Homo sapiens: one gene and its partners. The protein of the gene in region 1 purifies or fractionates together with the protein of each later gene. This does not show direct contact. Each region holds a gene or a part of one and is shown in the gene's direction. Other genes may lie near its edges.

The links.
Region 2: the proteins of IFI27L1 (region 1) and DCAF13 purify together in Homo sapiens (affinity purification with mass spectrometry; one large-scale study listed by BioGRID and IntAct). This does not show direct contact.
Region 3: the proteins of IFI27L1 (region 1) and ESF1 purify together in Homo sapiens (affinity purification with mass spectrometry; one large-scale study listed by BioGRID and IntAct). This does not show direct contact.
Region 4: the proteins of IFI27L1 (region 1) and DIDO1 purify together in Homo sapiens (affinity purification with mass spectrometry; one large-scale study listed by BioGRID and IntAct). This does not show direct contact.
Region 5: the proteins of IFI27L1 (region 1) and ARGLU1 purify together in Homo sapiens (affinity purification with mass spectrometry; one large-scale study listed by BioGRID and IntAct). This does not show direct contact.
Region 6: the proteins of IFI27L1 (region 1) and PAXBP1 purify together in Homo sapiens (affinity purification with mass spectrometry; one large-scale study listed by BioGRID and IntAct). This does not show direct contact.
Region 7: the proteins of IFI27L1 (region 1) and LSM14A purify together in Homo sapiens (affinity purification with mass spectrometry; one large-scale study listed by BioGRID and IntAct). This does not show direct contact.

Annotation. Positions count from the first base shown.
Region 1 is NC_000014.9:94,087,810-94,091,309, forward strand, and holds part of IFI27L1 (interferon alpha-inducible protein 27-like protein 1 precursor), read left to right. Parts: intron 1-3,500. UniProt on the Homo sapiens protein: Plays a role in the apoptotic process and has a pro-apoptotic activity.
Region 2 is NC_000008.11:103,435,197-103,439,785, forward strand, and holds part of DCAF13 (DDB1- and CUL4-associated factor 13), read left to right. Parts: intron 1-429; coding exon 430-594; intron 595-4,589. UniProt on the Homo sapiens protein: Part of the small subunit (SSU) processome, first precursor of the small eukaryotic ribosomal subunit.
Region 3 is NC_000020.11:13,774,343-13,778,931, reverse strand, and holds part of ESF1 (ESF1 homolog), read left to right. Parts: intron 1-2,661; coding exon 2,662-3,059; intron 3,060-3,661; coding exon 3,662-3,775; intron 3,776-4,589. UniProt on the Homo sapiens protein: May constitute a novel regulatory system for basal transcription. Negatively regulates ABT1.
Region 4 is NC_000020.11:62,916,063-62,920,651, reverse strand, and holds part of DIDO1 (death-inducer obliterator 1), read left to right. Parts: intron 1-4,589. UniProt on the Homo sapiens protein: Putative transcription factor, weakly pro-apoptotic when overexpressed. Tumor suppressor. Required for early embryonic stem cell development.
Region 5 is NC_000013.11:106,547,213-106,551,801, reverse strand, and holds part of ARGLU1 (arginine and glutamate-rich protein 1), read left to right. Parts: intron 1-4,589. UniProt on the Homo sapiens protein: Dual function regulator of gene expression; regulator of transcription and modulator of alternative splicing. General coactivator of nuclear receptor-induced gene expression, including genes activated by the glucocorticoid receptor NR3C1.
Region 6 is NC_000021.9:32,764,824-32,769,412, reverse strand, and holds part of PAXBP1 (PAX3- and PAX7-binding protein 1), read left to right. Parts: intron 1-4,589. UniProt on the Homo sapiens protein: Adapter protein linking the transcription factors PAX3 and PAX7 to the histone methylation machinery and involved in myogenesis.
Region 7 is NC_000019.10:34,213,495-34,218,083, forward strand, and holds part of LSM14A (protein LSM14 homolog A), read left to right. Parts: intron 1-1,629; coding exon 1,630-1,806; intron 1,807-2,101; coding exon 2,102-2,167; intron 2,168-4,589. UniProt on the Homo sapiens protein: Essential for formation of P-bodies, cytoplasmic structures that provide storage sites for translationally inactive mRNAs and protect them from degradation. Acts as a repressor of mRNA translation. May play a role in mitotic spindle assembly.

The DNA of each region.
Region 1 (3,500 bases):
CATTCATGTGCAGATATTTGTGCACATCTCTGATTCTTTTCTTGTGATGAATTCCAAGAAGTAAAATTTCTAAACCAAATAAGCTTTCACTACATGCTGTCAAATAAAGTATGGGTTAGAACACGCCATACCCAGCAGTGAATGAGGATCACTACTCCTTTCCTCATGCAAACACTGCATGTTCCAGTTATTTGCTTCCTGAGGCAGATTATAAGGATGTAGTCACTCAGCTCTGTTTCACGCTCTGCTGTGAACCCTCAAGGATGGAAAGTTAATGACTCTATTCCCCTGGCTTCCCCATATGCCAGTTCTGCAAATGACCTGAATTGTGCCAAGCTGACTCCCCTGTGCAAGGATGTGAAGGTGGAAGGGACACAGGGGCTGTGCTTCGGCTTCTTCTACTGCCAAGCATTGTAGTAGGGACTTGTTTTTTTGCAGTAGCAGAAGCAGAGTCCCAGGATCCATTTCTTACGTTACTATGCGAGATGCAGAAGGTAAGTTTTCATTTTACTGGCATAGATGCCCCAGAGCCAACAGGTGTGGCAGTGGCTTCCCGATATCCCAGTTTCGTGATCATGGCACTGGCTGAAGCATTCTTGGTGGCCCACTTTTAGGGTGGAGCCACATTCTGGGGTTGGGGCATTCCTGGAACATCAGCTTAGACCCTCCTCCTCCAATCCTGGAACAATCTTTTTTTTTTTTTTTTTGGAGACAGAGTCTTGCTCTGTCGCCCAGGTTGGAGTGCAGTGACACGATCTCAGCTCACTGCAAGCTCCACCCCCTGGAACAATCTTATAGTCACCTAATTCCCTGTGTCAAAACCCACTCTGCTTAAGTTGGCTGGAGTGACTTCTGTTATCTGCAGCTGAACTCTGACTAATAGATGCATGTGACACACATACAAAATGTTACCTCCTTTAAATCTTTTACTATTAGTAAGATTGACCATCTTTTTAAGTGTCTATTAGTCATGCGTAATTCTGTCTTGGGGAGCTGTCTCCTAGTCTTCGGAGTTCCTTGTTAAAGGCAGTTCCTTTTAAAAATTGATTCATAAGGAAAACTCTCTTTGAGTTGGGGATACTAATCGTGCAAAAGTATTATTTTGTTTGGTTTGTTTTCCCCTCAGTATGTCACTTGTCTCTTAACCTTCATGATAAATCCATTTTTCACCACGAGGGACTTTGTTCATGGTGTTTTTTTGTTTGTTTTGTTATTTTGTTATTTTTATTTTTAGAGAGAGTGTTTTGCTCTGTTGGCTAGGCTGGAGTGCAGTGGTTGGGTCATGGCTCACTGCAGCTGTTACTGGATAGAGGTCCCGATGCATATCCTAAGAGAAGGTTCTTGGATATCATGCAAGAAAGAATTTCAGGTGAATCCATAAAGCAAGAGCAAGTTTATTAACAAAGTAAGGGAATAAAAGAATGGCCATTCCATAGTCAGAATAGCAGCTTGAGCTGCTTGAATGATAATACTTATAGTTATTTCTTGATTATATGCTAAACAAGTGGTGGATTATTAATGAGTTTTTGAGGTGGGCAATTCCTGGAACTGAGGGTTCCTCCCCCTTTCAGACCATATAGGGTAACTTCTTGATGTTGCCATGGCGTTTATAAATGGTCATGGTGCTGCTGGGAGTGTCTTGTAGCATGCTAATGCATTATAATTAGTATATAATGAGCAATGAGGATGACCAGAGGTCACTCTCATCACCGTCTTGGTTTTGGTGGGTTTGGGCTGTCTTCTTTACTGCATGCTATTTTATCAGCATGGTCTTTGTGAACTGTATCGTGTGCCTATCTCCTGTCTCATCCTGTGACTAAGAATGCGTAACCTCCTGGGAATGCAGCCTAGTAGGTCTCAGCCTTATTTTACCCAGCTCTTATTCAAGATGGAGTCACTCTGGTTCAAATGCTTCTGACATATTTACCCCCTCCCTTTTACAAGGAAACCCTTAAGCCTAAGGGTTGTAGAAGTATGTAGATCCATCTTCTGTAATTTCTTCAGACTGAATAGGGGCGATGATATTCCTGCCTAACTATTAGGGTCTCTTGTATTCAGGGTAGAGTGGAGCTCAGTCAGAAAGTGTCGGTATGGCAAGGACCATTCATAACTCTTGAGTTCCGACAAAAGGTGATATCTGGAAGATTAGTAAGTGTTCAATTTAAGAAAACATTGAGTAAGCTCATCCTACATTTCTATACAAAGAGTACAACAGCAACATATTCCACAACAGTAAAGTAAAATAAGCAAAATTATCCCAAGTAAACTGAATAAGAAGGCTTTCCAGGAACTGGGCAATTGTTGGAACCAAGCTGATATGGGGGTCTCTAGCTGATTCCAATATGTGCCCAAATTAGAATATTGATCCAGATTTTTACATTACCCATCCCTCTTGTTTCTTCTGAGCTGCAGCCAGAGATCACCGATTGGTTCACAGGAATAAGCAGGGTCAGTCTAAATTGCAGAAAAAAACTCAAAAACAACTGATGAGACTAGAATTTAATAACTGGTGTACCACAGTTTTTGAAACCTAATTTTTCTCTCTCCAGTCCTCATTTTAGTATAAAACAAATCATAATTTGACAGATTTGGTTTATTATACCTGGCCTGATTATTTGTATAAAGTGCAGCAAGAATGATTATTTTTCACATAGGCTTTTTAAATTGACTTTGGTGGAACTTTGTTCCATGAAAGGAATCTCAGATAAGACATTTTTAAAGCTGAGGCCAGCCATGGGTTGGTAGCAGATACCTACGAGTTTGGGTAAATTCCTCTCCTTAAGAGGTTTCAAGATAACTTGGGGCTCTTGGGCCTGTCAGAAAGTGACATTCTTTGGTCAGGAACCCTGTACAGTGACTGTGTAGGCAAGATACGAGGCTAGTTTTCCCAAGGGGCTTTTATTGGCTCTATAAGTCAAGTTTGATTCCTTAAGGGAAAGCACATCATTACAGTCAAAGCCTTGGTAAAATAACCGATGTCTCCAATTGCATCCAATTGCAAAATGAAATGGATTCTTATTGTACTTATGCAGATAACTATATTGCCATAAATTAAGAATATGCAGTTTCCAAATTCTGGAGAAATCAGGTAGAGAGAAGCAAATATACTCCAAATTTTGTTCACAGTAGTATACTTTACTCAATTATCAAAAGTTGTAAATAGCTCAAAATAAAAATTTTTTTGGCTCTGTAAAAGATCAGGAAAAAGTCAGAAAGATTGGTTCAGACTTCTGTTAGTTTAGTTCATGCGCTTAATTCCTGTTCTGTCTGATGCTCATGAACATTTCAGCTCTCCATGAAAGTCCTGAAAGATTTTTTCTAACATCACAATGTCCAAAGTTATCAGAAACCTGCATCCAAGAGCATCTGTCAAAGTCCTATAGCTGATTAAGGGTCACCTTTTAAAGAGGATCAAAACAAGGTAACAGTTGCCTGTGGATGACAAAAAGTTTTAGGACAGCCGCTATTATAGCCACAATTGGCTAGAAATTGTGGTTACT
Region 2 (4,589 bases), on another chromosome or scaffold:
TCATTAATATGCTACGTGAAATATCAGAATATAAAGCTTTACATAACATTTCAATTTTATTAAAAGTATGTATTTAAATAGTATGGTGAAAAAGGTTTTTTAAAAAATTATGCTGTACTAAATAACTGGCCTCTGGGTAGTAGAATTCAAGGTAATTTTTGTACTCTACTTTTTTTGAAATTTCCACATTTTCTACAATGAGATTTATAGGGTGGAAAATGTGTTGGTATATATATAAGTGGAGTCTTAAGGAATCATAAAAACTGTTGAAATTTTTCCTTATCCCTCACCTGCTTGTGTACAGCATTGAGCTTTTTGTTTAGATGTGCATTGTTTTGCAAATGGTTCTTGTTTTCAGTGGTATCTTTTAGTACTGCATATGGCATCTTTCTAGAAATATGTGTCAAATATTTAAAAATTCTTTTACAGCTTATATACTTTTGATATGCGTGCACTGGACACTCCTGTAATGGTCCATATGGATCATGTATCTGCAGTGCTTGATGTGGATTACTCTCCCACTGGGAAGGAGTTTGTGTCTGCTAGTTTCGATAAATCTATTCGAATCTTTCCTGTAGACAAAAGTCGAAGCAGGTATGTGCCTACCAGTAAGCCATTTATATTCATATGTCACTTAACAATGGGGATGCATTCTGAGAAATGAGTCATTGGGCGATTTCATCATTGTGTGAACATCATCAGAGTGCACTTAAACAAAACTAGATGGTATAACGTGTTGCACACCTAGGCTGTGTGGTCATATGATATGGCCTGTTGCTTCTAGACTACGAATCTGTTCAGCATGTTACTGTGCTGAATACTGTGGGCAATTGTAACACAGTGGTATTTGTTTATGTAAACATATATAAACACAGGAAAAGTACAGTAAAAATCCAGTATTATCTTAATGGACCACTGTCGTATATGCAGTCTCTCATTGACCAAAATGTCATATGACTATTTTTGTTTCATTTTTCTTTGTCCTGATTATTATTTATCTTTTCTGAGAGGGTACCTGAGTTTAATAAAGTTTTTTGCTCCAATACAGTTTAAGAAAAATTAGTAATAATACTTTACATTTGTTATTTTTTACTTAGTCAAATCCAACTCTGTATGCCAAACCAAAAATTAAAAAAGAAATAAAAGTAAGTTTAAATTGTCAAGACCGTTCTCCCTCTATTTCACTTTAGTAGGTATATGGCTTGGTTGATGAGAGGTTGAGAGGTGGGAGATTTGAATACTCAGCTGTCCCATAGTCTCGTGTGTGTCTCATTTTGTAAGCACATAGAGTGTGATTCTAATATTTAAGATTTTTATTGTGTTTTGTATAGTTTGGCCCTTTACTACATATTATATGTTATTAAATACAGTATCTATTTATACATCTATTATATCTTATTTTTGTAAAGAGGTAGTTTACAGAAAGTGATGGCATTTTAAGGAGTTTGCAAGGGGAATTTTGTTCTCGAGTTTTCACTTTACAGACTGACTTTAAAAACTAAGTCCTGTATAGATACAGCCCCCTGTATAGTGAATTATGGTTTACAAAGAGCTGTTATACACATTCCCATTGTTCCTTAGTAATGCTTTAGATGTGTTCCTGGAAGCATCCATAAAATAAATCCAAATAAATGGAAATAATTTTTCTCAAAAAATTATGATAATTGGATGATCATGGTCATAGTCAATCTGCTTATCTAACTCTTTGCTCTTTTACTTGTGATATTTAAGTCTTTTTCCACTGTAATTTGAGGAAGCCATATGGATTTCTACACCATGTATCGTCATTGTCAGCAGATAATTATCTTCATCACTGTTTATCTGATTATGAAGGTGCTTCAGTTAGAAGCATACTGACAGGAGTGTTCTGATGACTTTGATCTTCATTTCATCATTTCTGTTGTAGAGCTTCTGCTGTGTGTTCCTATGTGACTATTGCTTCCTTTGTTGCTGCCTTGATATTCTCCAAATTGTCATGAGTGTTTTTTTGGCATTATTCACTTAGGCCCAAGGCAAGACTAATAGCTTCCATATTTCTCTCACCTCTGGAAAATGTTGAGAATCAAGAGAATATGGTCCTCCATCATTTCTTGGCACCACAACTTCCAAAGGTAGTAGGATAGTATTTTTCCAACATGGTACATAAGTAGACAAAAGAATGAAACGAGAACAAAGAAAAAAACAGGACTGTGTAGTTACCTATGATCCCAAGGGGCCAGCAGCTGAGTTCAGGCTGAATTATTCCAAAGCTAGTGTGGACAGCTAAATGTAGGTCTAGCTAGAAAACTCACATTATTCCAAAATTGTATAAAAGGGTTCTTATATTTCATTTCTAAGAAATTGTCTCCTGATGTCATTTGGAGGTTTTGTAATCACAGTCTTAATATGTGTTAACGTCCTGTTGTGTTTAGATATAAATGGTGTTCCCTCTGACCTTTGCCTTTATCTGCTTGAAAGCTAGTTCTAATTTGTTTCTGTGGTTTGTTTCCTATCATTATAAACATCAAATAACTCATGCTTGGGTGAATAATCTGTATTTAAAAAATATTTTCCTTTAAAAGACCTTAAAATGGCTAAAGCATATTATTTTTAAAATAAATTTTGAGTAAATTTTTTAAAACTACAGTTAAGTCAGTATTTGAAAGTAGGCTTCTGTTGGAAGTTCATTCAGTATTTACTGAGCAAACAAGTAAATTAATAGTGTTCACATGGAAAAATTAGTGTGACTGTGTATATAAAGAATTTAAGCCTTTAAAAATGTATTTATCTCCTAATAGTAGAACTTTTGGTGAGCTTAATAAACTTAGCATATATGCAGACATAAACATATCTAGAAGTTAAGAACTCAGCATAGTTTACCATTGGGGAGGATTCTCAGTTACTTAAGTGACTAACCGTTGGATCTGACTGGTCTACTGCATGAACAGATTATGTTTAATGGTTACGGAAACCTGATTGAATTTCCCTACTTCAAATGCATTATACTGCTTTGGAAAAAAGGGCTTCTTAGGTATGTGGAGATTATAAGAAATGAGTCTTCAAAAGCAGAGCACTGAGCGGGAGAAGAAAAAGCAGTCTATCTCATCTAGTTTTCATTTTAATAGGACGTTCTTTTTAATCATCCCCTCTCTTTTAAAAATGAATTTCTAATGGTTTATCAAAGTGCTTAAAACATACCTATCAGAAACAGTGTAAAAGACCAGTTTTGTGAGTATAGTCGAGAGATTTTTTTTTTTTTTTTTGAGACAGAGTCTGGCTCTGTCAGCCAGGCTAGAGTGCAGTGATGCCACACGGCTCACTACAGCCCCTGTCTTCTGGGCTCTAGTGATCCTCCTACCTCAGACTCCTGAGCAGCACCACACCTAGCTAATTTTTAAAATTTATCTTTAGTAGCTATGGGGTCTCCCTGTGTTACTCAGGCTGGTCTCAAACTCCTGGGCTCAAGTAATCCTCTCACCAAAGTACTGGGATTATAGGCATGAGCCACTGCACCTTGCCTACTTTAGAGATATTTTTTATAGATATGAATATTTGATTTAGTCATTCTGTTTGAGTTTTATTTTACTGTGCATAGTTTATTGAGCCTGTTTCCTTCCTCTTTATATACTCTGCATTTTGAATAATTTAATCCAGATGCAGAAAATTTATTTCTCCAGAAGTTTCATCTTACTTTTTCTGACCTTGTATTTTACTTGCTTTTTAATGCCTTTCTTAACACTTACTAATATAGTATCACCTGTGAATTCTTCTAGCATATTTCACAGCCTTTCCAAATAGGTATGATATTTGACATCTCCATTTATTAAATGATTCTTTTTTTTCTTTTTTTGAGATGGAGTCTTGCTCTGTTGCCCAGGCTGGAGTGCAGTAGCACGATCTCGGCTCACTGCAAGCTCCGCCTCCTGGGTTCACGCCATTCTGCCTCAGCCTCCCAAGTAGCTGGGACTACAGGCGCCTGCCACCATGCCTGGCTAATTTTTTGCATTTTTAGTAGAGATGGGGTTTCACCTGGTCTCGATCTCCTGACCTCGTGATCCACCTACTGCAGCCTCCCAAAGTGCTGGGATTACAGGTGTGAGCCACCGCACCTGGCTCTATTAAATTATTCTTACCTCAACTTATCAGACACTTCTGTAGTCCTCCCTTCCTTTTCACACATGTAAATCATCAACTCACTTTAATTAAGCTTTTTTTTTTTTTTTTTTTTTTTGAGGCAGAGTCTCACTCTGTCACCCACGCTGGAGTACAGTGGCACAATCTTGGCTCACTACAATCTCTGCCTCCCAGGTTCAAGTGATTCTCCTGCCTCAGCCTCCCTAGTAACTGGGATTACAGGTGTGTGCCACCACGCCCAACTAACTTTTGTAATTTTAGTAGAGACAAGGTTTCACCATGTTGGGCAGGCTGGTCTAATTAATTAAGCTTTTTAAACAATTTAACCAAAACAAAATTCTGGCATTAGATTCAGCATATCAGGAGGTACTCTTTGAAGACCATTGCATTTCTTTCTTTTTCAGTAAAATGAAGGGGAAAAAAAGTGTGTTGACCTGAATTGATTTGATATGGGGAAGAGGCCTTTTAAGATCAAG
Region 3 (4,589 bases), on another chromosome or scaffold:
TGGGACCACAGGTGCACCCCACCATGCCTAGCTAATTTTTGTATTTTTGTAGAGACAAAGAGTTTTGCCATGTTGCCCAGGCTTGTCTCAAACTCCTGGGCTCAAGATCCTCCCATCTTGGCCTCCTAATATGATGGGATTACAGGCGTGAGCAGCTGTGCTCGGCTGCAGATACTTATTGAATGAATAAATACTCTGAATGCAGTTGATATTGTTAAAAACATTGAAATGGAAGACCTCTTTAAGTCTCTTATGCAACACTTTATTATTATATAACCCAAAGTGTGGTATGTGTACCATTGTCATAAGTGAGAAGATTTTTGATGATACTCAAACTTCTAAAATATTAATAGTTATGTACTGTGTCAACATCTTAGAAAACAATGTAATTACCCTATCACTTCTGTGACTTTAGGAATATTGTTTAGAGCAAAACTAACTTTTAAAAAATTCAATTTAATAAAAAAATGATATTCAAAAATCATGAAAATGGTATAATGACTGACAGTTGAGAAATATTGCAATACTAGATAGACTGGGTCTGTAAGATGTTATTTCTAAGCTTGTTGCTTAAAAGTAAATTCTGCTTACCTCATAGTAACTTTCAATGTTGTGTTTTTCAGATCTCATATATAGAACCTGTGACAATGCTTTCATTTTGGCGCTTTTCACTTCTATTGGCTAGTTATTTTTATTAATCCCTGCTTCGTTGTGGTGGTAACATAAAAGCCCATTTCCTGCTTTTCCTTCTAACAAGATGCCTTTTCATTCAGTTAGTCTCAAGTCAAGTTGTATCTTTGTGAAGCCTTTTTATAAATACCTCTCTGCAGGCAAATTTAGATGTCTCTCACTGTATGGTGATTGAGAACATAGATTTATAAATCAGTAAATGGTTACCTTTTATTTATGAATCCATCAAGAGCATGAGATCGTGTTACAAATCTTCTCTCTTTTCCCTTATCCTAGCTCAATTCTTTGTATGTAGTAGATACTCAGTAAATATTTGGTCAGTGAATAACTATTATAAGATTATAGGACCAAGAGAAAATTAGTTCCAATTTCATTCTAAATCTTGAACTTTTAAATTTGCTTTTAATTTTCCAAACTTAGAGCCTGTAAGCAGAAAATAAGCTCCAACTTAAAGATGAGTAAAACACGTAAGATATATCTACACACCAAGTAGATAGAAGCCTGTGATTGCTTTAGAAGTAGGAAATGAGCCCTTTCAGAGTTGTGAGGACTAAAATTTCCATCTTAAGCAAAAACAGTCTTTCAATCTTGGTGTATTGCTAATCATGACAGTTGATTACAAAGTTCAAGACCTGGCAGAAAAAGTATAAATATTATTTCTCTGTCTTTATAGGTGATCTCATCCACATCACAGCTTCTGTTGTCAACTGCGTATGAATGAGTCACTGATCTCCAACCCAGACTTCTCTGAGCTGTACACTCTTATTATTGATACTTTCTTTTAGATGACTGAGTGGCACTTCGTATTCAACATATTCAAAACTGAACTCATGATTTCCCTCCACCAAACAAACTAGTTCATTTCCAGTGTTCCCTTTTCATCTTTCCATCTTCTTAGCTAACTAGCTCTGAAAGCTAAGAAGCTATGACTCATCTTTGACACTTCCAAAACTCCCAGTCCCCGTGTCAAATCTCCAGTCGGTAATTATTGGTTTCACTTCCTGACTGACTCTGAAATCCATGTACATCTCTGCATACATACTGCCACCCAACTTAGTGCTACCTTCATTTCTTGCTTTTTGTACTGTACTACCTTTACTATATTCACATCTGTTCTTTACTTTCCCAAGTCAGTTTTCTACAGTATAGTCAAGGTGATCTCCTCAATATGCAAGTCTGAGGATGACAATATCCAAAAGAAGATGACATCCTCTTTTTTGAAAACAGCAGTGTCTTCCCATTGCTTTTATGAAAAAGTCCAAGCTCTCTATATGGTTTTTTGATAGCTTGGCCTCTACTTAACTCTTCATTTCCATTTGTTACTTGATTCTGTGCTATCTGTGATCTGGACATGATGGTTGGCTTTTTCCTATTGGCAGATTTTTACAGGTACCTTCCTTGCTCTTTCAAACAAATTTCCATCTATTAGTCTAACTTTGACTATTTAACTCCTGTTCATCCTTCAAGTAACAGCTCAGTTATCACTCACTTAGGGACCCCATTAAATCCCCTTAGAAAACATTCTTTCTGGGATATCTTAGTTGTGATTTTAACTTTTCCTATATATTGATTTTATTTGATATCCATGTATTCTTTTCACTCAGCTAGAAGTTTCACTGAGAGCACTGTTTGCTTCTCTTTTACCAACTGTTGTATATTGAGCACTTAGCACGTAGCAGGCACACTGTTAAGTATTGAATGAATGTCTGGATCTACTTGCGTGATGTGAGCATGTGTTAGGATTTCCATTAAATAACTTGGTTAAGTGTATTTTCCTTTACTCTGTTTCATAGAAGTTATGGTTAGGATTTCTATCATAAAAATTGACTAAGCATTTACTGAATATATATTTGTCTTTACTGTGTTTCATAGAAATTATATTTTTACTGGAGTTGATGTCAAGATAATTTGGATTCAGTTTAATTCAGCATATATCTTTTCTTAATTTCTTTCCCCTTTAACATTTTGCAGTGGTTCAACTCATAATGACAAGAGACAGTGATGGTTATGAAAACTCAACAGATGGTGAAATGTGTGACAAAGATGCTCTGGAGGAAGATTCAGAAAGCGTTAGTGAAATAGGAAGTGATGAGGAATCTGAAAATGAAATTACAAGTGTTGGTAGAGCTTCAGGTGATGACGATGGAAGTGAAGATGATGAAGAGGAGGATGAAGATGAAGAGGAGGATGAAGATGAGGATAGTGAGGATGATGATAAAAGTGACAGTGGCCCTGATCTTGCAAGGGGTAAAGGAAATATAGAAACTAGTTCTGAAGATGAAGATGATACGGCAGATTTGTTTCCAGAAGAATCTGGTTTTGAGCATGCTTGGAGAGAATTAGATAAAGATGCTCCTCGTGCTGATGAGGTAACCTTTTGAATAAACAAGATTATTTGTGAAAAACACAGTACAAGCAGCTTTTATGGCTGGTAGAACTGATGTCATTAAGTGGGAAAAGCTTATTGGTAATAGTATTCTTTATGATTCTGATTAAAATTTGATATGGAATATAATTATATGAACTAGAAGACGTCCAAGCAGATAAGAAGAGGCTCTACATAAATAATTAAAAGTTGCATGAAATTTTTAATACTTGTTTTAGCTAGTAGTTTGTATTTCTGTTTGTACGGCACCCAAAAGAAATGTTGCAGGGTAACATACTCAACTTCCTTACTCATGCATGCATGGCAAAATAGCTGAACAAACTTGGTGGTTAAAAAATCAGCTCATGATCATGTTCTGATTTAAGAATTAAGAACCAAGTAAGAGAAAGTACTTACCTGTTATGGTTTTACTATTGTTTGGCTCATTTGAAGTTCTCTTTTATATACTGAATTACGCTTAGATAACTCCTGTACTATTAATTTCAGAGCATAGGGGACAGAAGGCATTACATTTTTAGAATCTTTATTTTTCAAGTATTGAGAATGATATGGATTATGTACTATTTAATTCTTCTCATTTCTCAGATTACACGTCGATTAGCAGTTTGTAACATGGACTGGGATAGATTAAAGGCAAAAGATTTGCTGGCTCTGTTCAATTCATTTAAACCCAAAGGAGGTGTAATATTTTCCGTCAAGGTGAGAATTGATTTCATTTTGAAATAAATATTTCTAGGCATTTTAAGTTAAATCTGATTTTTTTTTTTTTTTTTGGCCATAGTTTTCCTTTTTAGGAAAATACTGTGGAAGTTGTCCAATCCAATTGAGTGTGAAACTTATGTAACAGGTATAAATGTTAGAAAGGAAGAGGTGAAATTATTATTATTGATAGGTTATATGATTGTTTACACATTAAAAATCCAAAGAAATAAAAGCTCAGTAAAGGGACAGCATATAAGAAGTGTTTTTAACAATAAATTGCATTCCTTATTGCTAACACTGGCCAATTAAGGAAAAAATCTAATTATACTAGAAACAAAACCACATAAAGTTCTTGGAAATTACCTTAATAAACACAAATGACCTATGTGAAGTAAACTGTAACACTTGATAAATTTGAAAAACTTACATAAATTTTGAGGATACCATATTTCAAGCCAACCTAATAATTAAGAATCCAGGCTTTGCATTATTGCAGACCTGGGTTCAAATCTTGATTCTCGTAAGTGTTATGTGATCCTGGACACTTAATTAATCTCTCAAGTATGTTTACATCTTTCCAATATATCCAAATGGATATAACAATAGTATTGGTGATTGTAAGGATTAAGTATAAAGGAGCTTGAACTAAGTATTTAGTGCAGTGCCTGAAATAGCCCTGCCCTCAATCATTATTAGAGATTGAGTCTCCCTTATCCAAAATGCTTGGGATCAGAAGTGTTTAGAATTTCAGATTTTGAAATAAAATTGCATTATATATACTTACTGGATGAGCATCGCAATTCCAAAATCT
Region 4 (4,589 bases), on another chromosome or scaffold:
GCCTCCCAAAAGGACCCCTGGACCACGCTTTGAGAACCACTTCTCTAAGAGTTGTAAAATAGCTCTAAACACTTGGGGAAATTGATTACTTTTAGGAAGATAAGCTGTGTCTTTGAACAATTTTTAGTGGCTCAACCATGTGCTTGCCCCTTGGGGCAAGTGTGGAATCAATCTGATGCGCTGTCACCGGTAAAGCTGTTCCAGTACACACCTCTCCCTCAAAGTGCCCTACACAGCCCCTTGCTGAATCCTTTGCAGCAGTGAAAATCGGGGGTTGGGGGGAGGCAAGAGTAGGCTGTGCTTGGGGCCATGGAATTATGCAGGTCTCTAAGGGTGTGGACCGAGGAGAACATAAAGGAACAGTGATTTAAACCTGTAATAAACAGATGCCCTTGAGGGGAAGCAGCCCCCACAGTACCCTGCTGGGATGACCTCCCGCAGCGCACCCCACTCACATGGTACCCGGGGAGCTCACACTGCCACACTTGCGGCATGAGGTGGATTTCTTCATGGGGATAAGAACCTGTGCATTGTGGTCCTCACCAGGGCCCAAGTGGTAATCTTTTATTAAGAGCAACAGGAATCCTGGTATGTAGAATTGGGACCGTATCTTAAGTGTTTGAAACCATACTTTCTTTTTTACTGAGACAAGAGGAGTCCATCAAAGGTAGTGGTTTAGGAGACTTTATGTCCAGCCATTAAATAGAGAACAATAAACCTCACTTCTCCTTCACCTCGATAAATGATTTTATGTGACTGTTTCTGGTTCCTGGCATTCATTTGGAGAGTTGAAATTTCCCACCTGAGTTGCCCACCAAGGTCACCAGCCTGTGTTTTGCACTAGGAAGTAGATAGAGGGAAATGGCAGGATTGTTGCAAGCTCACATGGGGAGCTTGGCGGCCCGGCTGTAGCCGGGGGCTGGCCAAAGCATTAGTCCTCAGCAGGTTTTTCAGTAACAAGTTTTGCTTTTTGTCTCCGCGTATCTATAAAAACACAAATACCCAAGAAATGTAAAACAACAATAGGTTGTTTCTGGATTTTTCTCTACATTTTCTTTGTGAGAAACATACTGTGTTGTGGCACCCTTGCTGCTTTTTTTTTTTCTTCTTTGAGAGGGAGTTTTGCTCTTGTTGCCCAGGCTGGAGTACAGTGGCACGATCTCAGCTCACTGCAACCTCCGCTTCCCGGGTTTAAGTGATTCTCCTGCCTCAGCCTCCCAAGTAGCTGGGACTACAGGCACCTGCCACCAAGCCCTGCTAATTTTTGTGTTTTTAGTAGAGATGGGGATTTCACCATGTTGGCCAGGCTGGTCTCAAACTCCTGACCTCAGGTGATCCACCTGCCTCAGCCTCCCGAAGTGCAGGCATGAGCCACCGCACCCGGCCCAGAATAATTTTTGTAATGACGGTATTATTTGGTAAGCAGCAAAACTTTGAATTTGCCGTCTGAAGGATTTAAATGTAATCTATGCAATTGAGTCAGATTCTGCATAGATACTAAAGTAAATGAAAGTTGGGCTTCTTCAGTTCCTTGTGGGCCCAAATCTCTTTCCTGTTTGGTGAGTGCAGCACAGTGTTTCCTGCCGCAAGCTGGTGGAGCTTTGAGTGGGCCATCATGGTACATGAACGGCTGCTGCTGGTGGCTGGAGAACACGTCGCATTTGGGGATGTCATCTGAAGTTTCTAGGCATATTCTCCTAGTGACTGTCGCATTAATGAAAACTGAGCTATCAAGAGTCTTTCATTGGGTAATCTTTCCTTCATTTGTGGTAGTTTAAAGATCTTTTACCTAGTGTCTTCTCAGTTGCTCCTCATCTGCATAATAAACAGATTGATGAGCCAGGAGACCCTTAATAGGCAAAATATAAATAAATGTAAACTTTGGCCTACCCTGTCAGAATTAGCGAAAATAATGAAGTTTAGAATAGTGAGGTTTTATTGTAGCATTATAATTTCTGACTGGCGGGTTAAAATTGTTTTGAATATTGTTTCAGGGGAATGTGAGGTTTGAAGAAACAGAATGTTTGCCACTAGGTGAGGTAAACTATGCATTTTTGTTTTATCTTTTTGCTTAGAAGTCAGAGCTCTTTTCCTGGAGGTGCGATGTTATGAAAATAGAAACTTAATTATGGTTGTATGTCATATTTTAAAGTGTCTTGGAGATTAATTACTCAGAAACTAGTCTCAAGTTTTTGGAACTGAAAATCTTTAGGTGGGAGCTGGGCACTGTGGCTCACGCCAGTGGTGTCCCAGCTACTCAGGTTGAGGCAGAAGGATCGTTTGAACCTATGAGGTAGAGGCTGCAGTGAGCCCTGATCATGCAGCTGTACCACAACCTGGAAGTGGGCACGCTTGAGTTAATGACTTCAAGCAGATTTTAGAGTAGTAAAAGTTGAGCATACAGATTTGCAGTGGTTGCAAACCCATGCATTGTAATAGTTGCAGTTAGGCTTTTTAAAGTAACAGAGCTGACCTTTTGGGAAGATATTTTTATTTGGTTTTTAAGAAATTTCACTTTTGGCTGCTTACTGTTTTGGTGAGTTGGGGAATCTGAGGGAAGATTAACAGGTAGTTACAGAACCCTTGTGGAAGGAAATGTTTAAAGTCTCTTCTGATGTCTGAAGCATAGGTATGTATTACTGCTTTGCACATATCCAGTGTACTCCTAAACTGGTAGAAATGGCATGTTGCCACAGTTCTTTGTGTTTCATGGACTCCTGAGGGGGAAGTCCTTGAAGCCCTTTCTGGGGCTAAGAGGTAAAGATGACTTCTGCATAATAATAGTCTAATAGTACAGGCCTTTTCTGGTGAGTTTGACATTTGCATCGGTGGCACAGGGCAGATTGGAGCCCTCTTCAGCACCGTGCATGGGCACCGAATGTTTAGAATATGCCAATTTTCCCAAATAATGTCCCTGATGATGCAGTAAATATTAATTTTTTTCGGAACCCGCAAACATACATCTTTTTTACTTTCGCTGTGATTAAATGTCAAGTTATATATAAAGCTTCTGCTGCATCCCCACGTGGTACTGTCCACGCACAGCCCTAGGGGATTGAGCTGGGAGCCGAGTGGTCTCGGAAACGCTGTCTGTCCCTGACAGAACAACAGACGGAGGACAGTTTTCAGACTCAGCATGTGGCAGGCGTTTTGTCCAAAACGAGTGATGTCTCAAAGAAAAAACGAACAGTATTTGTTGCTAAGGATAAAATTTGAGCTTTGGGGTGAAAATTGGAATTTTAGAAAACTTGTATCTGCCATTGTAAACCTGATGGCTTTCTAGTAATTAAAGTCTTCTTGGAGATTGGACCCGACATTATCGGCCAGGTGAGGTGACTCACACTTGTAATCCCAGCACTTTGGAAGGCGGAGGTGGGTAGATCACTTGATCCCAGGAGTTTGAGACCAGCTTGGGCAACATAGTAAGACCCTGTCTCTACAAAAAAAAATGCAAAAATTACCTGGGCATGGTGGCATGCACCTGTAGTCCCAGCTACTGGGGAGGGTGAGGTGGGAAGACCGCTTTGAGCCTGGCGGTGGTGTGGGTGGGGGAGGTGCTGAGGCTGCAGTGATCCTTGATTGCACCACTGCACTCCATCCTGGGCAACAGGAAAAAAAATGTTTGTTTTATGCTATCCGATGAGATGTGTGGACATTGAGAATCTGTCTGTTACTTGAACCCGTGTCATCCAGGTGAACAGCATGCACATGGGTCCAGAGTGCAAGGACGTGTTCAGAGTGAACACAGCAGTCAGTTTTCATGAAAGAAAGGGAGAAGTTCCTTGACAAAGGCTGCAAATTCTGTTTCAGCTAACTTTTATGAAACTGCTCCTTGGCGAGAGTTGGTGTAGTATCAGTGAACATCCAGTTATGTGAAGATGGTTACAATACTCCATTCTAAAGACCTATCTGTGTGAGGCAAGATTTTGATGACATGTTTTAGCTGAAACACTCTATGGGAACAGATTGAGGGCAGAAGTAGACATGAACATGGAGCTGTCTTCGGTTATGCCAGAAATTTGCAAAAATGTACAACAGGGCCACTCTTCCTGTTCATTTTTGTTTGTTTTAGAAATAACTTTCATTTAAAGATACTATTAATGTATTAATAGGTTTATTTTTAATACATACTTAGAATTTTGAAAATAGCAATACATTCCACATAAACAAAAGCTCTTTGGTGTTCTCAACTTGTAAAAGTGTCTTGAGACAAAAGGTTTGAGAGCCGCCATTCAAGCATTTGGAAGTCAGTGTGTGTCCTCTGCTTGAATCGCCGCTCATCAGCTGCTTCTAGTCAATAGAAAATGAAGCAGTTTTCAGCTGGGGAAAAAAATGTGCTTAGAAATGTGGAAATATTAAATTTGGTACATTCTGTTTTAACCTGTAGTTTGTTCACTTCCCAGCTTCAAGGATACCCACATTTTTCTTTCTGGGGAAAAGTTGTTACTGATACAATATGGTTGCAGTTTTATGAACACATTCCCCCTGTGATGGGCTGTGTAGTGTGTAGAATTACACACTAATTATACACACAAAAAGTTGTGTTAGAACAGGTTTTTTTGCTTGTGCCTTGATATACATATGTTTTT
Region 5 (4,589 bases), on another chromosome or scaffold:
AATGTTGGCGTTGAAGATTGAAGTGATGTAGGCTGAAGCCAAGGAATCCTCGCAGCCACCAGAAGCTGTAAGAGACAAGGAGCAGACTCTCCGCTAAAGACTCCAGAAGGAGAATGGACACCCTTCTGACACCTTGCTTTCAGCCCAGTGATACTGATTTCAGACTCCTGGCCTCCAGAATAAATTTATTTTGAGCTGTTTAGTTTGTGGTAATATGTTACCTAAAAATGTGGAAGTGGTTTTGGAATTGGACAGTGGGTAGAGGCTCCAGTTTTGAGTCACATGATAGAAAATGCATATGTTGCCTTTAAAGACTGTTGGCAAAAATATGGATTTTAAAGGTGCTTCTGGTTAGGGCTCAGAAGCAAATTAGGAACATATAAACTGGAGGGAAAGAGATCCTTTCTATAAGTGATAGAAAGCTTGGCTGAATTGTGTCCTACAGTTGTATATAAGGCAGAACTTAAAACTTTTTCATATTTAGCTGAGAATTCTAAGTAAGTGTTGAAGTTGCAGCCTGGTTTCTTCCTGTTTATAGTAAAGTGGCAAGAAAAGCTAAATTGAAGAATGAACTGATAAGTATAGAAAGAACCACCAGCACTGGATGTTGGGAATATCTCAGGCTACTCAGATGGCAAAAGGTGTTCACTGTTAGAAAAACTGTCTCTGGAAAGAAGGCCAGGGGTATTGCTAGACAGCCTTTTGTTTGTGTGGAAGAAACTATGCATGTAACTCATAGGTTCCCGTACTATCTCAGTAAAAGCCAGAAATAGATGAGATTATCCAGGAAATATCTATGGAGAACGATGTTTAATGATGTGACGTGTAGGGGACCTCCAAAGTTTCTGAGAATGTTGTGTCAGCAGAAACTGCCAACTGGTACTGAAAAAGACACATGACACGATGAAGGAAGGTGTTCAGACTCCTGACAGAATCCATGCACATAGGAAAGGTGATGTGAAAACAAACACAGAGATTTGAGGATGTTGATCTTGGAGTGAAGTGTCCACACACCAAGAAACCTTGGCAGCCACCAGAAGCTGGAAGAGGCAGGGAACAGATTCTCCCATAGAACCTCTGGAGGAAGTGTGTCCCTGCCAACACTTTTGATTTTTGTTCCAGTGATACTGATTTTGGACTTCTTGACTCCATAATAAATTTCATCCAGTTGCAGTTTGTTACAGTGGCCACAGGAAATGAACACAGTTGGAAAAAGAACAGGGTATCTTATAGTAGAGCAAGCATTTCTATAAGTTGAAATGGTACAATACTTAGGAAAAATAAGGCACCAAATGTAAATGTCAAATATTTTAATTTGAAATGAAGTTTTGGGTAAGTCAGGTAAGGATTTTCAGAGAGCGAGAGGTTTTTTCCTGATTGTTAAGATAAAAAGCTGGTTGAAGACCTTATGTTAATGTATTTGGGACAGTAATTTAAAAAATAAATTTCTGGACATGAGTGAGTGTATTGACATTGTGAAGGATGGGTTTGTAGGACACAAATTGGAAACACGAAGCCACTGAAGGCCAGTCAAAAGATGGGGCCTTGAATCACCAAAGTAGCAGTTCTTAGAAACTGTGAGGGAGAACTAATAAACTTGGTGAGTGAAGAGGTATGAAAAAGCCGGGACGCAGGGGAAAGTCTGTTGTAGGAACCAGAAAAGACACTCCTGATGTAATCATTCCTAATAAACTCATGCCAGGTATCCCTAAGCATTTAAGGAAAACTTAGTGCACAAAATAGTGAATGACCAAGACAGAAGAACTGTAAAAAGAGAGAATGTAGGATACAGAAGATTAAAAGAGCCACATCTAGATAATACCTTTATTTGTGAAATTTTAGAACAGAAAGTATAAAGAAAATTCCAAAGGCATCTGATTTTCCTTGGCAAAATTATACAGCAGTCTCTCCAGAGTGCTCAGGCAGTGCTTTTTGTACATAATATTGCATACAAAGCTCAATCTCAGTCACTTCCTCCTTTTGAAACAGTTGTCTTCACTTCAGGTAACATGGAATCCATGGAGATATTATCTAAGGTTGAAGTTTCAAAAATGATTTAAGATTATATATAAATGTCACAAGAGGGGAATTAAGAATAAAAGGGGGTAAAGGGAGTAGGTGGTGATAGGAATTTAGATGGTAGCTAATGATATCCTGTAATGATGGTTTGGCATATTAGAAACCCTAAGGAGGTAACTGTGAGAATAAATATGTTGTCACAGGGATGAAGGGGATCCTTGCGTTTTACCCTTCTGTTATTTAACATTGTACATGGAATACCTCAGAAAAATTTACTGACGTAGTTTACTAAGTGTCAGAACTAATCGTATCAAATATATTTTTTTCATTTTTTTATTCATTGGTTATCTAAAGTGGGATATACATTTAAAAAGTTATGGAAGGGAAGATGAATAAAGGAATTAAAATTATAAATGGCAGAGTGGATCAGGCTGTTTATCTTGGAAGGTTTAAAATGTAGAAATCACATTTCTGAATAGTGGCATAGTTTCTAATTGTGCTGTTTTTCATCCATTTCTATAATCACTCTTGAAATATTTCTATGGATTTTTAAAATTTTATAAAGTTACATATATTTCAAATAGAGAATAGATTTCAGTATCTCTGTCTGCTAAAGGGACTGTTGCTAAGAACTACCTTGATTAAATTTATGGACAGTTTAAGAAGGAGAATGCTTAGGAAGGTAATCTTTATAAAATCAGTAGATCCTCTGGGTAAAGACGGTAGGGCAGAGGCCGGGCACAGTGGCTCACGCCTGTAATCCCAGCACTTTGGGAGGCCAGGGCAGGCGGATCACAAGGTCAGAAGATCTAGACCATCCTGGCTAACAAGATGAAACTCCGTCTCTACTAAAATACTACAAAAAAAGGAGCCGGGCGTTGTGGCACGCACCTGTAGTCCCAGCTACTCGGGAGGCTGAGGCAGGAGAATCGCATGAACCCGGGAGGCGGAGGTTGCAGTGAGCCAAGATCGTGTCATTGCACTCCAGCCTGGGCAACAAGAGCAAGACTCTGTCTAAAAATAAATAAATAAATAAAATAGGGCAGAGATTACTGGGAGGGGTAAGTAGGCCTTTTAACTATAATGGAACATTTTTTTGTGTGTGTACTTCTTACCACCAGTCACTCTTTAGCTTGGGGTACAAAGTTGAAAGCCACCTTTGTGAGATTGAACAGGGTTATGGGCATAATGGCTAGGAGGGTCTGCCCCAGTGTATTGGTTCTGGTATTGTGGATGTTAGCTTTCTCCTTGGCCTCCAAGCTGTCCACTACGTAATCCTTGTGAGTGAGTTGCTTAGTATTACTCATCTGTATAAATACATATATGCATCCCCAACCCCCCATGCAAATACTGCTTTCTTGTGCATAAATGTGAAACAAGCAGGGAAAGGAGCAATGGTTGTATTCTCCGGCAAGTCAAGTCATCAGGAAAGAAAAAGTTACTACAGAGAGAGGGTAGGATTTAGGAAAATACCTAGCAAATAAGGTATAGGGTCATACCACACTTACAAGTGGTGGATGAACAGGAAACCAGCTTTTATCACTTGAGAGACTATATTAAAATGAGAGATGACGGTTGTTAGTGTTTGAATAGTCTTTTTTTTTGTCAAAGTGTAATTAAGATTTATGCCTAAAGCCATAGTAGAACAAAATACCAATATTTGTATATAGACAGTATATTCAACTAATTTTTAAATCATTGCATTAAATACTTCTAGTAGGCACTGTATGCCTAGCATTGGTGATTAACATTGTTGAGCCGTAGTCCCGGAGAAAATCAACTCTGCTGTACATACATACACAACACACTTTTGCCTTCTGTATTTGTAGACCTAAGTGAAGAAACTTGATTCTTTACCCAATCTAAAGTGCAGAATTAGTATTTTATCTGAAGGAAGTTGCTTTACTTTAAAAATCTTGTTTTTTTAATTAGGCAAAATGATCACATGGTTCAAATTTTGTTTTTTTAGGAAGAGAAACAGTGAAGTCCCTTTACCTTACCCCCAACCCAATCCCCAATTCCCAACCCCGTCTCCAAAAGTGTACTCAGTTACGGGTTTTTAAAATCTTTTCAGAATGTCTGTAAAAGCATATTCAGGCAGATACAAATGCATAATATTTTAATTCTCCCTTTATTGCACAAAAGTAGCATGTACACAAGGAACTTTCTTTTTTTCATTTAACAGTGTAACTTGGAGATTTTTCCATTGCGGAACATAGGGGCCTCCTTTTTTCCTCTTACTTGTTTTTAATGGCTATACAATATTCTCCTTTATATATCTTCAGTAATTTATTTAGTGTACCCCATATTGGTGGATATTTGGGTTTTTTTCACATTCTTTTCTTTCTATAAACTGTGTTGTAATATGTAACCCTGTAAATATATCAGTTTCGCATGGGTGCAAAATTTGCACATTGCTGTACAAGTACATAATGTAAATTCCAGAAAATGTACTTGCTGGCATAAAGTATTACGAAGATGTAATTTTGATAGTGTGAGAGTGCTCTTTATATGATAGCATATGTGTGTTAGTCCATTTTTTGCTGCTCTAACAGGGTAATTTATAAAAA
Region 6 (4,589 bases), on another chromosome or scaffold:
TTATTCTTAGAGAACTTTTAGGAATGCCCTAAATTTAATATTAGTATTACTCCCATTCAGCAGCCTTATCTGATACTAGATGAAGACTCCTTAGAATAATGAGGCAGGTATATTGTACAGACATCTCTTACGTCTCTCAAAACCTCAGTTTAAAAAATTTTAAGCGGTTATTTTGTCTTTAGGAAAGTGGATCCAGTATAATATTCTATGGTCTGAGTTATTCTCCTGCAAATGCTATTTTATTTTATGGAATTAATGAGAAAATCATGATTTTCCAGATTCTCACTTACAGGCTTATTGTGAAAAAGTATGGCTTTGTATCTCAAATTTACAATCTAGATGTGAAGACAATATCTCATAAATGTGTAAGAGGACTCAGTGTTTGGCAAAATGTTCAATCAGTGTTCCAAAGGGTGGCTACTCTTTCAGAGGAGAGAGGACTGCTTTATGGAAAAAGTGGGACTCGAAGATGGATCTTTGATAGTTAAAATTCCGAAAGGGAAGGTATTGGGGGTATGATCAAGGATTAAAATGACTAAAGCTGTTTTGGAAAAGAACAAGTACACCTGACAGGTCAGAGTAGATGATTTGTGAAGGAAGTAGTTAGAAGTTTCATGTGAAAGATACGTTGACAGATTGTGAAGGATGTTCAGTATCCAGTAAGGGTTTACATTTGCTACAGTGGCTTGCCAAGATGGTGACATGATAAATGCGTTTTGAAACTTTAGCCTGGTATTAACATGCAGCATGAGGAGAGATTGGAGGCCTAAAGCAGTTTAAACTCAAGGGCCAGCTTTGATCCATTAATAGTGGGTTTAAAAAGGTCTCACAGTTGAGCAAGAGTAAAGGCTTCTACTGATTTAGTAGGAAATTCTGGATGAGTTAAAAATGTTTTCTGTTGTTTTAGGGGGAGAAGTGGAAAGAAAGAATGATTTGAGAACCATTCCAAGGGAAGAATTGATAGGCTTAATATACACTTTGCCATATTGGATTTAAAAGAAAGAGTCAAATTTGAACTTTTGTCCTGGAGTGTCTTAATCCATTTTCTGCTCCTGTAACAATACTACAGACTAGGTAATTTATAAACAATAGAAGTTTATTTGGTTGACAGTTCTGGAGTCTGGGAGGGCCAAGAGCATGGCACAGGCATCTACTAAGGGCCTTTATGTTGTCATAACATGGTAGAAGGGCAGGTGAGTCTCCAAGACAGAGAGAGAATATCCTGCCAAACTCATCCTTTTATCAGGAGCCTGGGATAATGGCATTCACCTTCTCATGTTGTAACTGCCATTTAAGGGCCCCACCTGTTAATAACGTTACAATGGCAATTAAATTTCAACATGAGTTTTGGAGAGGACACTCAAACCATAGGGTGTCTTGGTTATGAATAATTATATATAGGAATAGAGAAGGCAAGTGGAAGGAGGAATGTTTTTAGGAGAACTGGTTATTTTGGAGTCTAGGAAACTGCCTTATTTTCCTCAGAATTCTTGAGACCAACTATATATGATGAGAGTAAAAGAAAGGTCAGGATAAGTGACAACTGAGAAAGGCCTGTTGTCATGGTTGTTGTATTAAGTCTGTTTTCATGCTGCTGATAAAGACATACCCAAGACTGGGAAGAAAAAGAGGTTTAATTGGACTTACAGTTCCACGTGGCTGCGGAGGCCTCAGAATCATGGCAGGAGGTGAAAGGCACTTTTTACATGGCGGCAGCAAGAGAAAATGAGGAGGAAGCAAAAGCGGAAACCCCTGATAAACCCATCAGATCTCGTGAGACTTATTCACTGTCATGAGAATGGCACGGGAAAGACCAGCCCCCATGATTTAGTTACCTCCTCCTGGGTCCCTTCCACAACACGTAGGAATTCTGGGAGATAAAATTCAAGTTGACATTTGGATGGAGACATAGTCAAACCATATTAGTTGCCATTTATTGTTGGGTTTAGAAATTGAAACAAGTGTGAAGTTGATGAAGCCATCTCTGACCTCTTCCATCCTTCTATCCTCATTGAATTCTGATACTCCACTCACTAGATAACTCCAATTAATGTCCTCTGAAGGCGGAGTCTGATTGTATTGTAGGTTGTCATTGGTAACACTGAAATGAAGGTCTGTCATTAATTGGCAATCCAGAACTCTTCCTACCTTCAACCCTCTATAGTAGGCAGAGACAATTAACTTCAAAATAACCACGGTATTGACTTGAGAACCCCATTTTTCTGATATTCTTAAAATAATGAGTTCTCTTTTTAATTTGAATTTGAGTGGAAGTAGTCAGTGAATACCTAGAGATGTAGATTTGGGGGTGGTGCTTATTGCGGTGATAATTAAAGGTGAATGGAATTGATGAGGGAGCCGTATATAAAGGAAAAATTCCTGAAGACCAAAGACTTCTACTCTAGTAAGCCTACATGTAGAGGAAGGGATTTACCAAAGAGATAAAAGAATCAGGAAGGCCAAAGAGGAAAAGAGAAGAATGTTTCAGGAAGATGATGGTCGCTTGTGTGAACTAGTACAAGAAAAGTCAGGAAAAGTGAGGACCAAGGAGGGGCTATTGGCAAGATTGCCCAGCGTTTCTCTTGAGGGCTTCTGACAGGATGGATGGGAGTGGCCCACCAGCCAGACCCAGTGCCCTCAGAGATGTTTGGAAGAAGGAACATCTTTTGCTAAATTGCTTGATGATGCTATCATATATGAATTAGCCGTGGCTGCAGCCATTGGGTTAGGTTGGGTGAAATCAAAGGCTGTTTGTAGGGTCAAGGCACAAAAGTTGGAGAGGAAGTAGAGGGCAGCAGGTCCACACTGCTTCCTTGGGAAGTTTGGCAGAGAGAGACTAGGCAATAACTAGAGGGACCAATGGAGTCAAGTGGGAAAGCTCTTTTGATGAAGAGAAGCCTGTCCCTCTTTGTAGAAGAGGAGAGGGAGAGCCTGACCAGGTTTAAGGTGAAGTGGGTAATAATTGTGAGCAGGTTTCCTGAAGTAGTAGTAAATGAAATTGAAGGCATGAGTGGAGCCTTGAAAAAGGTTATTTAACATCTATATAGAGATGTCTGGAAGGGTAACATGTGACCACTGACATTCACATATCACCATGCTTTCGGCTTGTGTTTGCTCAATCATAAGCAAATACTTGTGAATTTAATGAAACATTGAATCCTAAAATTTGTAGGAATCATTCATTATCTGAGCATATCTGATGTAGTAGACCTTTTGTGCTTTTGTTTTTAGTCCATTAACAGCCATTGGTTTAGCATGGGTAAATTTGTTTTGTTTTTGAGGTGGAATCTCGTTCTGTTGCTCAGGCTGGAGTGCAGTGGGGCGATTTCACCTCACTGCAGCTTCTGCCTCCTGGGTTCAAGCGATTCTCCTGCCTCAGCCTCCTGAGTAGCTGGGACTACAGGTGTGCGCCACCAAGCCCAGCTAATTTTTGTATGTTTAGTAGAGACAGGGTCTTACCATATTGGCCTGGCTGGTCTTGAACTCCTGATCTCAGGTGATCCACCCGCCTTGGCCTCCCAGGGGATTACAGGCGTGAGCCACCATGCCTGGCCTAGCATGGGTTTAGAGCAAAAGGAAATAGGTAGTTTTTACTCCATCTAATAATGTGATAAAGTGAGTTTTAAAACCTTATAGCTTCATAATCCATTTCAGAGGGAAGTCTGGGTAATGAGAAAATGGTAAATGAAAAAAAAAAAGAAAAAAAATGAAAGAGCCTAAAAGAGGTTACCTAAAATCTTCTTGGTAAAGTTAAAAAGAGGGGAGGGATGTTATCTCTGGGACTGTTACTTAAGGGAGTACAGTATGGTTTGAGAAGAAGGAAGAAGTTTGAAGCAGTTTTGGGGACAGGAACATTCTAAGGAAATGACAGAAAAATATCTTTCATATTGAGAATAAACTTTTGCTTTACTCTTTCAGTATATTCCTTGTGCCTGTTGTGAGCATTACCAGGTTCAGTGCTTCAAGGTGAAGCACTTCGATTTTTGCCTGGGACAGAGGCTGTATTAGGATTATTTAATTGTAAGTAATGTAAACCAGGACAGTTTATCATTAAGATGTAGTGGTGCCTCCTGGATGACAATGGCAGGAAAGCAATCTTGAAATGGGCCTCAGGAGTGGATTAGAACTGAGAATTAGGAGGCTCTCTTCTCTGTCCAGATGGCACAATGTGGCCATTCCTCAGCTCCCTTCCTAGTTTACATATTCATGTAGCCTTTAGTTTCAGTCCTGATTCCAGATTCCCAGAAAGAGAATCTGGTTATCTCTGCTTCAGTCAGAAGTCCACTCTTAAACATTGAGTCGTGGTAGTGGGGTCAGGCTTGCACAGTGTAAATGTGACTGCTGGGATCTCATCTCTTTAGGTGATAGGTGACAAGTGGTTTTGAGCTAAGAAGGTATTCCATGTAAGTGTCCATTACTAAGAGACTTAGCTGGACTGTAAATGTGCTTTGTTCATAACAGAGTTGCCTCGCATGGGCTTAGGGTTTAATGAAATACTAACATAAAATGAAGTAATGCTTGAAAGAGGTACAAGCAGTTCCTTGTGGGAGTTTAGCAGAAAAAACAGTTAATTTTGATAAATTGTTGAC
Region 7 (4,589 bases), on another chromosome or scaffold:
CCAGTTGTTTGACACCTGCAAATATGCACAGATGGACAGTAACATTTGCAGCATATTTGGGGGATTTTTTTACGTGAAATGAGCATTTTTTTTAAGCAAAACATTATATTTTGGAATAATTATGAGATGTGAGTGCCTAAGCAGAGATGTACAGCAAACATTATCAGGACAGAAAGCATGATGGGAGCACCCGATGTTACATTCTTCAGTTCATGCTGTGACCAGGCGACCTCATAAAAGGAAAAATATAATGTATAAGTACAAACCCCATTTTTTGTTTTGGCTCTTTTATATTTGTATTTTTTGAGACAGAGTCTAGTTTTGTCACCCAGGCTGGATGCAGTGGACCGATCTCGGCTCACTACAACCTCTGCCTCCCAGGCTCAAGCAATCCACCCACTTCAGCCCCCTGAGTAGCTGGGGTTACAGGCATGTGCCACCACACCTGGCTAATTTTTGTATTTTTTTTGTAGAGACAGGCTTTCGCCATGTTGTTCAGGCTGGTCTCGAACTCCTGAGCTCAAGCGATCTGCCCATCTCAGCCTCCCAAATTGCTGGGATTATAGGTGTGAGCAACCGCGCCCAGCCAAACCCCATATTAAGCAAAAACTTGCCAAGAGATCTTTTAAAAGGCAAGGAATGAGTATGGCTACTGTGTAATTATCTGAAGGGTTTTTTTTGTTTGTTTTTTGGTTTTGTTTGTTTGTTTTTTTGCTGGCCTTTTAGTTTTTATGTTTAATTACCCAAGCCCCTAAAGCATTAAAGAACTTCACCTATCTAACTTTGTAGTTCTTTTACTTTATTTATTTATTTATTTATTTATTTATTTATTTATGAGACAGGGCCTTGCTCTGTCACCTAGGCTAGAGTGCAGTGGCACAATCTCGGCTCACTGCAGCTTCTGCCTCCCGGGTTCAAGCTATCCCATCTCAGCCTCCTGAGTAGCTGGGAACACAGGCACGCGCCACCACGCCTGGCTAATTTTTGTATTTTCAGTAGAGACAGGGTTTCGCCATGTTGCCTAGGCTGGTCTTGAAATCCTGGGCTCAAGCGATCCTCCTGCTTCAGCCTCCCAAAGGACTAGGATTACAGGCATATGCCACTGCGCCCGGCCCTTTACTTTCTTATAATAGAAATTTAATGGAGTTAATACCTGTAGATAGATGTAAAGGTATTGTTTTAGTCATCTACAGAAAGTACTAAGAAAGATTAAAACAAGTCACCATAGTCTTATGGTTGTCATTGGCGAAAGCCTGTGTTTGACCTGACTACAACATGATAATTTGTAGGATAATTCTAGGGAATCTCGTACCTGGCAGCAATTTTTTTTTTTTTTTTTGATGTAAACTCTTCCACTAAGTAGAAATAACAGATAAAATTGTGAGGGGGAGGGAGTTGTTTTGAAGCTGTTGAAGTTTTTTTTTAAATTATTATTATTTTTTATTTTTAACCTAATGACAAGCCCACTAAGGATACCATTCTTAATATCTGGTCTGATAAGTGGATTAATTCAAATTTGTGCTAAGGGTTTGAATTGATAGAAATAAAACTCTGGACAATTTTTTTTAGGGTCTAGATTATTTTGAAATCCCCAATAGGGTAGTTTGTTATCTTTTGGTTACATTTTAGGTCGCTCAAGCCCTCAGTTAGACCCTTTGAGAAAAAGCCCAACCATGGAACAAGCAGTGCAGACCGCCTCAGCCCACTTACCTGCTCCAGCAGCTGTTGGGAGAAGGAGTCCTGTATCAACCAGGCCTTTGCCATCTGCCAGCCAAAAGGCAGGAGAGAATCAGGAGCACAGGCGAGGTAGAACTTTAGCTGTTTACTGTTCCTTAATTGACTGATCAATGTTTTCCACTCACTTTATTTTCATTAGAAGGATTTACTTCATGTGAATGATCCCAGAAAATTAAACTGAATATGATAGAATGTTTGGTCTTTCAAATTTGACTCAAAGTGGTGGTGGTGTGGGTATAGTTTTTTGGGCATTGCACAGGCTTTGTTTTGGGTTTTTTGGTTTGTTTGTTTGCATTTCTAACTATGGAAGTTTTTGATGATGTACCCTGAGTTGATTTGGCACTTTGCATGTCTTCTTCTGTAGCTGAAGTACACAAAGTTTCAAGGCCAGAAAATGAGCAACTCAGAAATGATAACAAGAGACAAGTAGGTAAGTTCTTGGATCTAAAAGTCATATTCTATGCTTCTCAACAGGGAGAATATTTTAAATATATGATACATAATTACTATAAAAAAATGAAAGGCGGGGGTTGTGACTGTAAAGGAGGAGCACAGGGGAGTGTCACTGTGGTGACAGAACAGTCCTTTATCTTGATTGTGGTGGTAGTTTTGCAAATCTATATATGGTAGAACATCATAGAACTATGCATAAAGACATACCAAAAAATGAGTACATGTACAAACTGGTGACATCTGAGCAAGGTCTGTAGTTTAGTTAATTAGATTGTGCCTGTGTCGGTTTCTTGGTTTCGATAATGTACCATAATTATATAAGATGTGACTGTTGGAGTTTGGGAAGTTGGGTGATGGGCACAAGGGACGACTCTGAACTAGTTTTTCAATTTTTCTTTTCTATAATTACTTTAAAATAAAAAGATTTTTTAAAATTTTACTTTTCTGGGCCCGGCACAGTGGCTCACGCCTGTAATTCCAGCACTTTGGGAGGCCGGGGCGGGCGGATCACGAGGTCAGGAGCTCGAGACCAGCCTGGCTAACATGGTGAAACCCCGTCTCCACTAAAAATACAAAAAATTAGCCGGGCGCAGTGGCGGGCGCCTGTAGTCCCAGCTACTCAGGAGGCTGAGGCAGGAGAATGGCGTGAACTGGGGAGGTGGAGCTTGCAGTGAGCCGAGATTGCTCCACTGCACTCCAGCCTAGGCGACAGAGCCAGACTCTGTCTCAAAAAAAAAAAAATTTTACTTTTCTGGAAAAAAATTCTACTTAGTGGTAGGCCTTTTTTTTTCTGAGATGGAGTTTCACTCTTGTTACCCAGGCTGTAGTGCAGTGGTGTGATCTCAGCTCACGGCAGCCTCCGCCTCCCGGGTTCAAGTAATTCTCCTGCCTCAGCCTCCCTAGTAGCTGGGATTACAGCCGCGTGCCACCATACCCAGCTAATTTTTGTATTTTTAGTAGAAACAGGGCTTTGCCATGTTGGCCAGGCTGGCCTCAAACTCCTGACCTTATTTTCCACCCACCTCAGCCTCCCGAAGTATTGGGATTATAGGCGTGAGCCACCGCACCCAGCCAGGCAGTTATCTTTTAATATGTTCTTGAGTATTTCCTGCTAGAAGGATTTGTTCGTTTATATTTACATTTTCCTATGGCTTCTACTTTTGTGGTTTTTATGTTTTGTGTCAGTTTCAAGTTAGGATTATAAAATTGGTTTTCATTGTTTTCTATGCCTTTGGGAATGGAATTTTCTTCATGTTACAAGTTTGAAACGTTTCCTCATTAAAATTAAGCCCAGAGGCCAGGCACGGTGGCTCACACCTGTAATCTCAGCACTTTGGGACGCCGAGGCGGGCAGGTCACGAGGTCAGGAGTTTGAGATCAGCCTGGCCATACGGTGAAACCCTGTCTCTACTAAAAATAGAAAAATTAGCTGGGTGTGGTGGCACACGCCTGTAGTCCCAGCTGCTCGGGAGGCTGAGGCAGGAGAATCACTTGAACCCGGGAGGCGAGGTTGTAGTGAGCCAAGATCGTACCACTGCACTCCAGCCTGGGCAACAGAGCGAGAGTCTGTCAAAAAAAAAAAAAAAAAAAAATTGAGCCCAGATCCTGTTTTTGAATCAGTTGTTTAAGAGCTGTAGTTTTCTTTTATGATTATTGATTTAATAAGGTTTTATATTTTCTTTATCTGTTTTGTAATATATAACATTCTAAAATCATTCATTTTATTAATATTTTCAAATTTATTAATGGAAAATAAATTATAATTTTACAACTCTTCTAAATTAAAAAGGGAATGTATAATCTACCTTATTTAGAAAATGATTGAAAAATGATCTTTCACTTAATTTTAGAAATCTAGATATGATATTTTTAGATGTATATGTACTCTTCTCTACATTTATATATATATATATTTTTATATCCCCCCCCCCCGTGTTTTTTTTTTTTTTTTTTTTTTTTTTGAGACAGAGTCAACCTCTGTCACCCAGGCTGGAGTGCAGTGGGGCACGATCTCAGCTCACTGCAACCTCCACCGCCCGGGTTCATGCCATTCTCCTGCCTCACCCTCCTGAGTAGCTGGGACTACATATGCCATGGAATACAGAATTTTGTTTAATTTGACTCATTATATTTTACCCTTTTTATTCAGAAAAAGAGAGAGCTCCCCTCCCAAAATAAAATAACTGCCATACTATCTTTCATTGCCCTTCAAAACTCACCCCACCAAAGAGGTTCATTAACAGAACAGTGCATATTCTTCCCGATTTTTTTTGTAGATTTTACAGACACAGACATCTATACCCAAAACCTTTTTTTTTTTTTTTTTTTTTCCCCCTGGAGATAGAATCTCGCTCTGTCACCCAGGCTGGAGTGTAGTGGTGCGATCTCTGCTCACTGCA